Linked DNA regions of Homo sapiens: region 2 is linked to region 1. Evidence: fine-mapped expression QTL. A gene starts in region 1. The other region holds a variant in brackets. All regions are shown on one strand. Distances are between the middles of the regions.

Evidence for each region.
Region 2: its variant is fine-mapped to the expression of PLCL1 in prefrontal cortex (GTEx, PIP above 0.99).

The regions. Positions count from the first base shown.
Region 1 is chr2:197,802,369-197,807,756 of GRCh38, forward strand. It overlaps PLCL1 (phospholipase C like 1 (inactive)), which reads left to right and starts at 2,225. Exons shown (of 6, transcript NM_006226.4): 1 at 2,225-2,971. The coding sequence starts at 2,732. LOC105373828 (a long non-coding RNA gene) reads right to left here and starts at 2,178. Exons shown (of 4, transcript XR_001739850.3): 1 at 1,341-2,178. RefSeq lists a silencer at 2,272-2,401.
Region 2 is chr2:198,456,329-198,461,716 of GRCh38, forward strand. No RefSeq gene overlaps it. Among named protein-coding and RNA genes, the nearest start is that of LINC01923, 84 kb to the left of the region's middle. The variant A/G (reference allele first, on the strand shown) is at 2,463.

The DNA.
Region 1 (5,388 bases):
AACGACTTGCTAGATTAGGGTCCAACTAGTTTATCAAAGCAGAGTAATTTAGACAACAATCTTTACGGATAGAGGCTCAGAGCAAAGGAATCAGAGGGGTGTGTGTGTGTGTGTGTGTGCACTTTCACATGAGGGTGAGAGGGAAGGATGCCAAGGAAGAGAAAAGAGTCCAACTAGACATTGTCTAGTTGAAAGATACAACATTTTGCAAGTTATATGCTGTACTTTCTGGCCTCTGTTTTTTTTTAAATCACTGACCTTGAATGTTTGTTAATAAAGTGATGCTAATTTTAAAATTTGTAAAAATAAATTATTATCATAATGGTACACAAATCTGTAGGATGAGGAACTTATAAATGACATTAATATCCTATAACAAGATAATGAGTGAGATAAAGGCAGTTTTACATTTTTCAGAGGACAACCGAAGAATGGGACTTTTATTAGAGTAACAAAGAAAAATGAAGCACTGACAACTGTAAATGACAGAAGTCAAATGTAATAATAGTTGAATATCAAAGAAAAAAATGATAGCCTAAAATAAGATATATTTCTGAGGATAGCAATTAAAAATATTTCCTATATAGCATAGACAGGAATTCCCTGAACTAAAGGAGATGGAAGACATGTATGGTTGTTTTAAGTCTGGGTACACTTTATTTTCTTCCTCTAGTCTGTGCGTTGTAAAGGCATACCTGTTGAAAAGGAAACTTTTGTTGGGTTACCCCTCCTGTCTTTTAAAGATGAGGGGGAAAAAGAAGCCTTTGCTGTTATGGATGCAGTTCTCAGAATCTCACTAGAGGGTGGTGTTGGTTCTAAAACCAGAGGTCACTGCTACTCTCTACAGTACATTCATTACTAGGCTGCATTTATGTTTAAAGAAAAGGCAAAGTCAAGCCTTCTCAGTATTCCCTAGTAGTTGATAAATGTCAAATCTGAAACCTCCCAAGTGCCCCTGCCAGTTCTGGCTGGTTGTAGCCCAGAGGAGACAGATAAAGTAGTGAAGAGATTATCGGAGGAGTTGGGTGGCTGATTCTAATTTTGGCTCCTGCACTAACTAGTAGACAAGACTCCCTGGGCCTTTGTCTCAACCGTAAAACAAAAATGATGTCCTAGTTGATCCCTAAATCCCCATATATCTCTAAAATTATGAGATTCAAACCAAATTGTTGGTCTAAAATGCTGAATAATTTCTCATGCTGTTAGCCAGACTAAGGAACAAGTAAAATCTCAAATTATTAAATTATTAATAAGATAAAATGTAATGTTATAAGTGAGGTTTAATATAGATTCTAATATCAAAGGAGTTTAAAATTAAAATGCCAAGTCTTTTGTCTTACCAGGGAGCCTTAGGACCATGGTTTGCATCTGAGCATTCTGTGGATAATTTCAGTGACTTAACTCATCATCCAAAGATCTCTCCCTTCTTGGTTGCTAGCTTACTGGAAATGAGCAAAATATGTTTTTATATAGGATTATATAGAGAAAGGAGGCTGAACCATTGTCAAATAGGAATGTTTTAGGATAGAGACTAAACTCCCCACCTGCATTTATCTGACTTGGATTATATCTGTGCTTTTTAAGAGTCAGTCTTCGGAGGGATTTAGTTGGTTCAGTTTCCTTTCACCCTCATCTCTTTCACTGACTCCCTTTCCTTGTTATATTTACTCACACTGCAGAATGACCTTAGAATCCTTTCCTGGAACCTGAAGCAAATTATGGAACCCCAAGATCCCAGTAAACCCTAGTTTATCTCTGCATGGACTTGACTTCTAAGAATTGGCCTGAGAGCCTGCAATTAACCTGTGACCACGCAAAGCTTCACCCCGTCACCCCAAACGCTTAGACATTCATACTCAATACCCACTTTCCTCCAAATTGCTTTGTTTGGCAGAAGAAGGTTTCTTTCTCCCCTCTCCTTCACCCAACCTGGATTTTTGTTGCATCTCAGGCTCATTTCGCAAATCTAAACTTCCTAAAATATACACGGAGCGCCTCCGGGTTTGCACACGCGCGCGCGCGGGTACACCCTGGCTCGAGTACATTAGCCCCGCTGGGCCGGCTCCCAGTTGCAGAACACATTCCATTCTTCGCGCTCGGGCACACCCCTCCGCAGTGAGGATTGGTCGGGCCGAGCCCCCTCGGCGAGGCGAGGCTCCTAAGAGGCCCAGACGCCTGCCAATCCCCAAGGGCTGTCAAAACAAGTCTCCCTCCCTGTCACAACAGAGCTGAGTGGAGGCCGCCGCCGCCGCCGCACTTCCTGGGACCGCTGCGCCGCAGTCCGCGGGCAGGTGGCGGGTGCGCCCGGCCGCAGTCGCCCGGCTCTGGCCCCTATCGGGCCGCCGGCGTCCGGGCTCCAGAGGCCGCCTGGCTGGGCGCCCGGTGCCTTTTGTCTGGCGCAGGGCCGGCGTTTGCATCACATTTCGGATACCTCCCTCTCTTTTTCGCCTCTCCTTCTGCCTCCCGCTCACATCGCCTCCCCACTCCCGCCACCGTCCCCCGCCGGACTGCTAGCCTCCTAGACCGAAGCCCGAGGACGTCTCTGCCCGAGCGATGTCCCCTCTCCAGAAAGTTGCCGCCGCCGCCGCCGCCGCCGCCACTGCCGCCGCTGGGCGGTGAAACAAAGTCTGGCGGGGCCGCCTCCCGGTGCAGGAGCGCACCGGTGCCTAGCGGCTGGACTCCGCTGCCGGGCGTCCCGCTTTCCCCCGGGGAGCCCTAAACGCTCCAGGCCATGGCCGAGGGCGCGGCCGGCAGGGAGGATCCGGCGCCGCCCGACGCGGCGGGGGGCGAAGACGACCCCCGAGTGGGCCCGGATGCCGCCGGGGACTGCGTGACGGCGGCCTCTGGGGGCCGGATGAGGGACCGTCGCAGCGGGGTCGCACTGCCAGGCGCCGCGGGGACCCCAGCGGACAGCGAGGCGGGCCTCCTGGAGGCAGCACGGGCGACCCCCCGGCGCAGCAGCATCATCAAGGTAAGCAAAGCCGCGCCGCACCGGGAGCGTGGCTGTGGGTGATGGGTGGGTCAGGGACCCGGGCAGGATGTGCGGTGTCCGGAGGCATCCGGGCTCAGCATTGTTTTCTCCCACCTCCTTCAACGCCAAACCTTCCTTCCTTATCCGGAGGTTCCCAGACTCAGCTGTCAGCCACGAGACGCACAAGTGACTTTTTCTCCCCACTGACGGCAGAGGAAAAGTTCCGCTCTGCGTCTTTGCGTTCTGATGGATGCTTTCCCTCATTTTCTCTGCAAGCTTCACTAAACCGTTGATGGAGGGAGGAAGGGAGAACTCTGGATAAATGCAGACCCACCGGATGGTTGTGCATTGCTTTCCAATGAAGGGTTAGCTTTTCCCATACAATGAAGAAAATGCACAGCTTACTCTCAAGTGTAAAAAAAGAATCCCTCTAGACTTAAATGATCCCGAAATCCCAAGATGTGTGAACTTTCCCGGTAGGGAGGCAGAGTTTTAAGTGGACCCTGCATCACAGTAAAGAGCAATGCAAGAGCCCAGAGTTTTTGCGCTGCAGAAAGCACAACCGGAAAGCAATCAATCCCCCAAGCATTATCACTGGTCCTTGTGGTTACCACCACATCCAGGGAAAACGCTTCCTGACCCGCTAATCACCTCACAGAATTTCTCTCCATCCATTTGGCAAGGAATTTGTAAACCTCTTTCCTCCCCTTTCTCTTTCCATCTTCCTTCCACTTGGGGCTTGTTTCTTCTGTTCGAGATTTCCTCTTTTGGGAGCATGACTTTGGGGTAAGGTTATTTAGGAAAGAACCCTCGCACAGGCTCTGGAAAAGGGCCTCAGTGTAAATGCATGTGAGTAATCAATCAAATGTATGTCAGATTAAAATTGATTTTGGTGGAGCAGTCAGTATAAAACGATATGTATGTATGTATATATGTAAGTATATATGTGTGTGTGTACATACACACACACACATCCCTCAATGACAATGAAAGATGGACTTTTACTTACTATTGAATTTATTGGGTTCACTAATATATTCAAAAGCTCTGTTCAGGGTTAAGCTGCGTAACCAGTGCATCACGCATGTTGCAAGCTCCCAGCACCAGCTTAGGTAGACTAACCACAGAATGTGGCTCCAGTAAAGTCTTTTTCCCAACACTGACACATGGAAGTTTAAAATCAGTGGAGAGGTTTCTATAATATATAAAGAAGAGTGGGTGGTAATTACAAATGGCTTGTAGTAGTTTCTGTTATTTTGTGGCTTTTTGATTATGTAACAGGAGTGTTCTATTCTGGGTGTGAATTTGGACAAAGGGAAATTACTATTTTGTTTTTAACCCACAGGTCAGAAAGCACACTGTTTTCAAACTTAAAAAACATCACAATTAGGAAACACATACATTTTGGATTCTACTGTATTGATACTACATGGTGTCCTGTGTGTGTAAAACAGGCACTGCAAGAGACTTTAAAATATATGACAATAAAGAGCAAACGGCTCTATAATGTTGTAAAAAACAAAAGTAATGGAGTATAAGGAATATACAAATTCTTGCAACTGAGTTTGCCACTTGTGAATTGTACTATGCTGGTTTATATTCTCAGAAGGGTCATTGCTGAGTAATGGTGCCTCTTTTGTTTTGAAGTTTCTTTTTGTGACAAAAAAGGAGGGAGACAACAGAATATTAACTTGATTTTTCCCCTATTTAATAGTAAATGCAATTAACATTTGGTAAATGGCCTTTAAAATTAAAGATATTAGAAAATAAAGTGAATTATTATGTTAGGTTTTTATTGGAAAAGTAGCACATACATATAATTTAAAAAATCAAATGTTGCAAAGGAGTGTGAAGGAAAGACCCTCAGACACTCCACATTCCCACTTATGTAGTCCACCCTCATAGATGTTAACACTTTCTTATGTATGCTTCCAAAATATTCCATGCATGTGTAAGCAGATATATCTATATGTGTCTATGATGAACTATAGCAGCTCCTGATTTCTACAAAAAAATCTGGCTAGAGTTTTACAAGTCTCATAGTTTTAAGCATTTTTGAAGCCTAGAGGGGGTAATCTGGTAGGTCTTTGGTGGGCAGCAGTCATTGGGGTCTGTTCCCAGAGGCCTTAACGCCCTTCTAAGGAGAAAAAAAGGCAGGTGGTAAGCTCTGTTCCACTCCGTCTCTGAGATCAAGAACCTTTCTGGTGACATTCTTGAATCTGCTGCCCTGTGGTTTGTTCCCTTTAGCATAGTAAAAATGAGTTTCCAAAAAAAGTTTAGATCATATAAGAAATACATAGCACATGTTCTATATTGAGAGAAAATGCATTTTTCACAGTTTTGCCAAGAGATTTTTTTTTAAATTTGGCATTGAAATGTACACAAAGAAGAAAAGCTTTAGTACATTTTAATCAAAA
Region 2 (5,388 bases), 650 kb after region 1:
AATAATGTTATCAGAAAACTGTTTAAATAACCAGGCTGAACATTTTCTATGATTTATCTTTAAGAGTAGAGGTCATTAAGTCACCTCAAACATGCTGGTCTTTTATCTATATATTTCTGCATCTTTAGATAATTTAGGACCTAAATTTTAGGCTATCAATTTCAAGGTTGTTTAAAGATTAAATTTAAAAAAGTTTGGCTCACTAGAATTCCTGCCTATGACTTGTTTTTCACATATGTAGAGTGGGTGGTCATCTGTGTTACATGATGGGACGATTCCAGGAATGTCTTCTTGCTCACATTTTTTTTGCAGCCCGTGAGTCACAGTGATAGACATGCCATATTAGAAATTCCTTAGGGTTAAAATATTGTCCCCAAAACCCAGTTTCTTTATCTTTCTTTTCCTTTCTTTTTATTTTTAAGGTGCAAATGGCTTTCTCACTCTCACATTCCAAGGATATTCTTAAATTTTCTTTCTTGACTTCTGCCAAATTTGAGACTCTGAGTGCATCTTTTTTTTTCTTGAGTTTTTGTGTTCTCTAAATAGTCTTGGTTTCTCTAACCTTTCAAACTGATGCTTAGAAGATATAAGCCAGGGTTTAGAAAACAGGTTTTTATTCAATCTCCTTTATTTTAGTGTGTTGCCTCCCTGTAGCCTTCTGCATGCCTAGTGTCTCCAGGATAGGAGTTGTCTTTTCTTTTTTTCCAGGGAGTTGATCTTCTCTCTCCTGGGTGCAAGATGCTTGGGTTTTTTGTTGGTTTGTTTGTTTGGTTGGTTGGTTTGTTTGAGAGTTGTTTTCCTGGCTTTCAATGAGATGGTGAATGGGGATCTCTCTTCCTAGTTTCCACCAATCCTCCCATTTTTGTTTGCAGCCTCCATTCCTATTCCTAGAAGTACCTGGCTGCTTTCCTTAACGTCCTTTCCAGGCTCTGTAGTGCTGGTCCTTTTTCATTTTGTTGATTCTCCTTCTTTGTCCCTTTAATCCCTTTCCTTTTTTTTTTTTTTTTAAGCCAGCAACCACTTGATGAACTTCTTTCCATCTTTTGTAGTATCTATCATTGCCTCTCCAGTTGTTTTGATCTTCTGTGATTATAGAAGTTTCATTTCTTTCAGTAGAGCTTTGGGAAGGAACTAAGGTAAATTTCTGGTTTTATCCTGCCATGTTTAATTAGATATCTTCAGGACTATTTTTCTAAAATACAAATGTCCTATAAATCTGTGGTCTTATCCTTTCAATGGCCTTGCCTACATACAGAGTAAAATATAAATTCTTATTAGATGTTTTTCAAAGTACTTCATGATCTGCTCCTTATCTACCTATCTTCCAGTAATTTTCTTTGCCTCCTTCAATTCTGGCACTCTTATATAAGTCAGTTCAGGTGTAACTGCCTCCTGGTCTTCCCTGGTTAAATAGCACGGAGGGGTGGAATATGGAAAGACTTTGGAAATCTCCTGGCATATCATATCGTTTGAACAAGAAGCAATGCAGAACATATAGAAGAGGCTTTTAAGCAGAGAAAAAGGCCTATGATCTCACCACAACCCAAGAGGTTCCAGGATCAGATACAGCAGGTAAAGGGGGGACAAGAAAAAGAGCTAGCATTGAACAGAGGCGTTAATAGAAAGCTTGTTCCCTTTCCCTCATATCCTTTCTCTCCTTCCCCTTCTCTGTCTCTAGTCTCTCCCTCCAGACAACCTCTTCTACTTCTTTCCTTCTACTCTCTTTTCCCTCCTCTCCTTACAACTAATGAAATTGTTGGCCCTAAAGCTTCACTCCACTGTAATAATACCATATATCCCTTTGGTCTAGGCCTCAAAGTGGGTGAAATATACTTTCTCACCCCTCGAGCTTGAACTTTGTCCTGTGACTTGCTTTGGCCACTGGGACGTTAAGGGTACAATGTGAGCAGAGGCTTGAATTGTACTGATGCAGTTGGGCTTGCTTTCTTGTGCTTCTGATACAGCCATGAGGATGACATTCCCTGGATACCAGAGTAAGTCATGTGGGGCAGAGTCACCCAAACTAACATATACACCCGCTTCTTGAAGCAGGGCTGCCCAGCCACCTGCAGATGCACAGTCAAGAAATAACTTAAGTTGCTAAGTGCCACTAAAATGTTGCAGTATCTTTCATTCAAAAAAGGTGGCTGATACAGAAACTGATACCAAGAGGTGGGGTACTGTCATAAAAACACTGAAATATATGGCATTTGATTTAGGTCTAGGTGGAGGAATGATGTGGAAACCTTAATAAAACGGAAAAGTAGCAATCCATATTTTGCAGTGGCAAGTATTTTGGTAAAACTATTGTCTGTCATATAAAGAAAATGTATCTAATGAACCTGCAAAGTTTGGTTAGGAGGTATCAGGAGAAGTGTTGAAGATATCAACTGGCTGTTTTGAACTGAATTTGATAAAATACCACAAGAAAGAAATGAGCTTAGAAAAGGACTGGTCAATTT[A/G]CATGCAGAATTTAGAGGGAATGTAAAGAGCCAAGAAATTGCAAATTTAAAATAGAAAATTGTTTCTCACCAAATCAATTATAACAAAATTGGGTATTTTAACACAATCACTAGTTGAAGACTAAATCTGGGGTGCTGCCAGAAAGACATGGCCAGTTAGACATGATCAAGCCAAGAGTGCAGCTGAAACACCCTCTGTTAAGCTTGCCAAAAGGATTAGAATGATATCTAGTAGATTTCTCACAGGACAAAAGGGGTCCATCAGAGCCCAAGAAATGATCCCAGAAATGTTTGACTCATTCCAAGAGCCCATAAATACAGAATATGGCTTAAAAAGAATCATGGGTGTGGCTTTGGTACATGCAGTTGATAGAAATCATATATGTAAAAATCCACAAAGGTTTTAAGAGAGATCTATAAGCAACATCACCACAAGCTTGGAACAGAAAAGAGACTGGCTGTTTGAAATGTAAAAAGACCTCTGAGTCTCCAACTTTCTACAGAAAGGAATATATATATTTAATTAATGCTACAAATTTCTCCCTAAACTTCTTTAGTCATTTCCCATTAATTTTGATATGCTGTGTTGCTGTTTTCATTCATAATATTTTATAATTTTCCTTTTTTATTTTGGTTTTGACCCATGGGTTATAAAGAAGTATATTATTTAGTTTCCAAATATTTGAGGTTTTTCTAGATAGCTTTCTATTGCTGATTTTTAATTTAAATCCATCGTGGTCAGAGAACATACTTTGTATAATTTGAATGATTTAAGTTTATTGAGGCTTCTTTATTCCCAGAGTATGATCTACCTTAATAAATGTTCTGTGTGCACTTGAGAAGAATGTGTATTCTGCTGCTGTTAGGTAGAGTGTTCTTTATAAGTCAATAAGGTCAAATTAGTTATTGTGCTATTTCCATCTTCTCTATTCATAACAACTTTCTATCTACTTGTATCAATTATTGAGAAGGAGTATTAAAGTATCTGACTATAATTGTGGCCTTTATCTATTTATACTGTTTTCAGTTCTATCAGTTTTTACTTCAGGTATTTTGAAGCTCTGATATTAGGTGCATAAATGTTTAGGACTGTTAGGTTATTTTGATGAAGTGACTTCTTTTTTATTATGAAATGATCTTCTTTTTGTCCTTGGTAATATCCTTTATTCAGATATATGCTTTAACTGATATTATGTCAGACACTCCAGCTTTCTTTTGTTTATTGTACATGTGATTTTTCTTTACCCCTATTTTAATTGTTAACCTGTTTGTGTCTTCATATTTGAAGCGTATTTCTTGTGGGCAGCATATAATTGCTTCTTTTTTTTAAAAAAAAATCCAATCTGAAGGCCTCTGCTTTTTAATGGAGTATTAATGTTTACATTCATATTTAAGGTGATTATGAGGTTTGAGTCTATGATCTTGTAATTTGTTTTCTATTTGTCGCTTCTCTTCTATTTTCCCTTTCCTGTTTTCTGTTTTCATTTAGATTATTTTAATTCTTTTTTATTTGATTTTCATCTCATAAGTAACTAATTAGACATAACTATTTCTTTTATTATTTTGATGGTTTCTTTGAGCTTTGTGGTATTTATGTTTAGCATCACATCTACTTTTAAGTGATGCTATACCGTTTCATGTATAGCTCACAATACTTATAATAGTACTTTTCCATTTCTCTCCTCCTGACCTTTGTGCTATTGTCACATATTTAACTTTTACATATGTTATAAACCACATTCTTACTGCTTTCATTTAAAGAGTCTATTGTCTTTTAAAGATGTTTATATATTTACCTCTGTAGTTAAAATTTCTAGTGCTCTATACCTTTGTCTATATTTATATTCTATCTGGTATTTTTCCCTTTTATTTGAAATATTTCCTTTAATAGTTCTTATTGGATAGGTTCATGGATGATGAATTCTTTCGGCTTTTATACATCTGAAAAAGTCTTTATTTTACCTTATTTTTTTATTTTTTATTTTTATTTTTTGAGACAGAATCTCACTCTGTCACCCAGGCTGGAGTGCAGTGGCACCGTGTCGGCTTACTGCAACCTCTGTCTCCTGGGTTGAAGCAATTCTCCTGCCTCAGCCTCCTGAGTAGTTGGGATTTCAGGTGCCCACTACCACGCCCAGCTAATTTTTATATTTTTAGTAGAGATGAGGTTTCACCATGTTGGCCAGGCTGGTCTCACACTCCTGCCCTCAAGTGATCCACCTGCCTCGGCCTCCCAAAGTGCTAGGATTACAGGCGTGAGCCACCATGCCTGGCCTCACCCTCATTTTTGAAAGATACGTTCACTGGGTATAGAATTCTAAGTTGACTTTTTTATTTTAATAATTTTAAAGAGGTTGTTCTACTGTCTTGTCACTTGCCTTGTTTCTGACATAAAATTTGCTATATTATTTATTTTCTTAGTATAATAATTGTTTTTTCTCTTTTCTTGACCAGTGATTTATTATTGGATGCCAAATTTAATATTTTCTCTTTATCACAAGTTGTGAACAATTTGATTATGCTATGCCTTTGTGTAGCTTTTTTCTTTTTTTTTGTGCTTGAGTTTCATTGAATTGGATTTATGGGTTTATAATTTTCATCAAATTTGGAAAAATTTCTACCATTATTTCTTCAAATATTCTTCCTGTCTTCACCTTTCTCTCTCTCTCCAGCTTACTGATATTCTTTTTTTAAAAATTTTTATTTTATATAGGTTCCAATACTATGTCTTCAAGTTCACTAACCTTTTCTGCAATGTCTAGTCTGCTGTTGATCCCATCTAGTGAATTTTTAATTTCATACATTATAGTAGCTTCCTCTGCATGTTTGATTTGTGTCTTTTTATATCTTCTATATCGCTACATAACTTTTTGAACCTATGGAATATAGTTATAATAAATGATTTACTATCTTTGCTTCTGTGTCA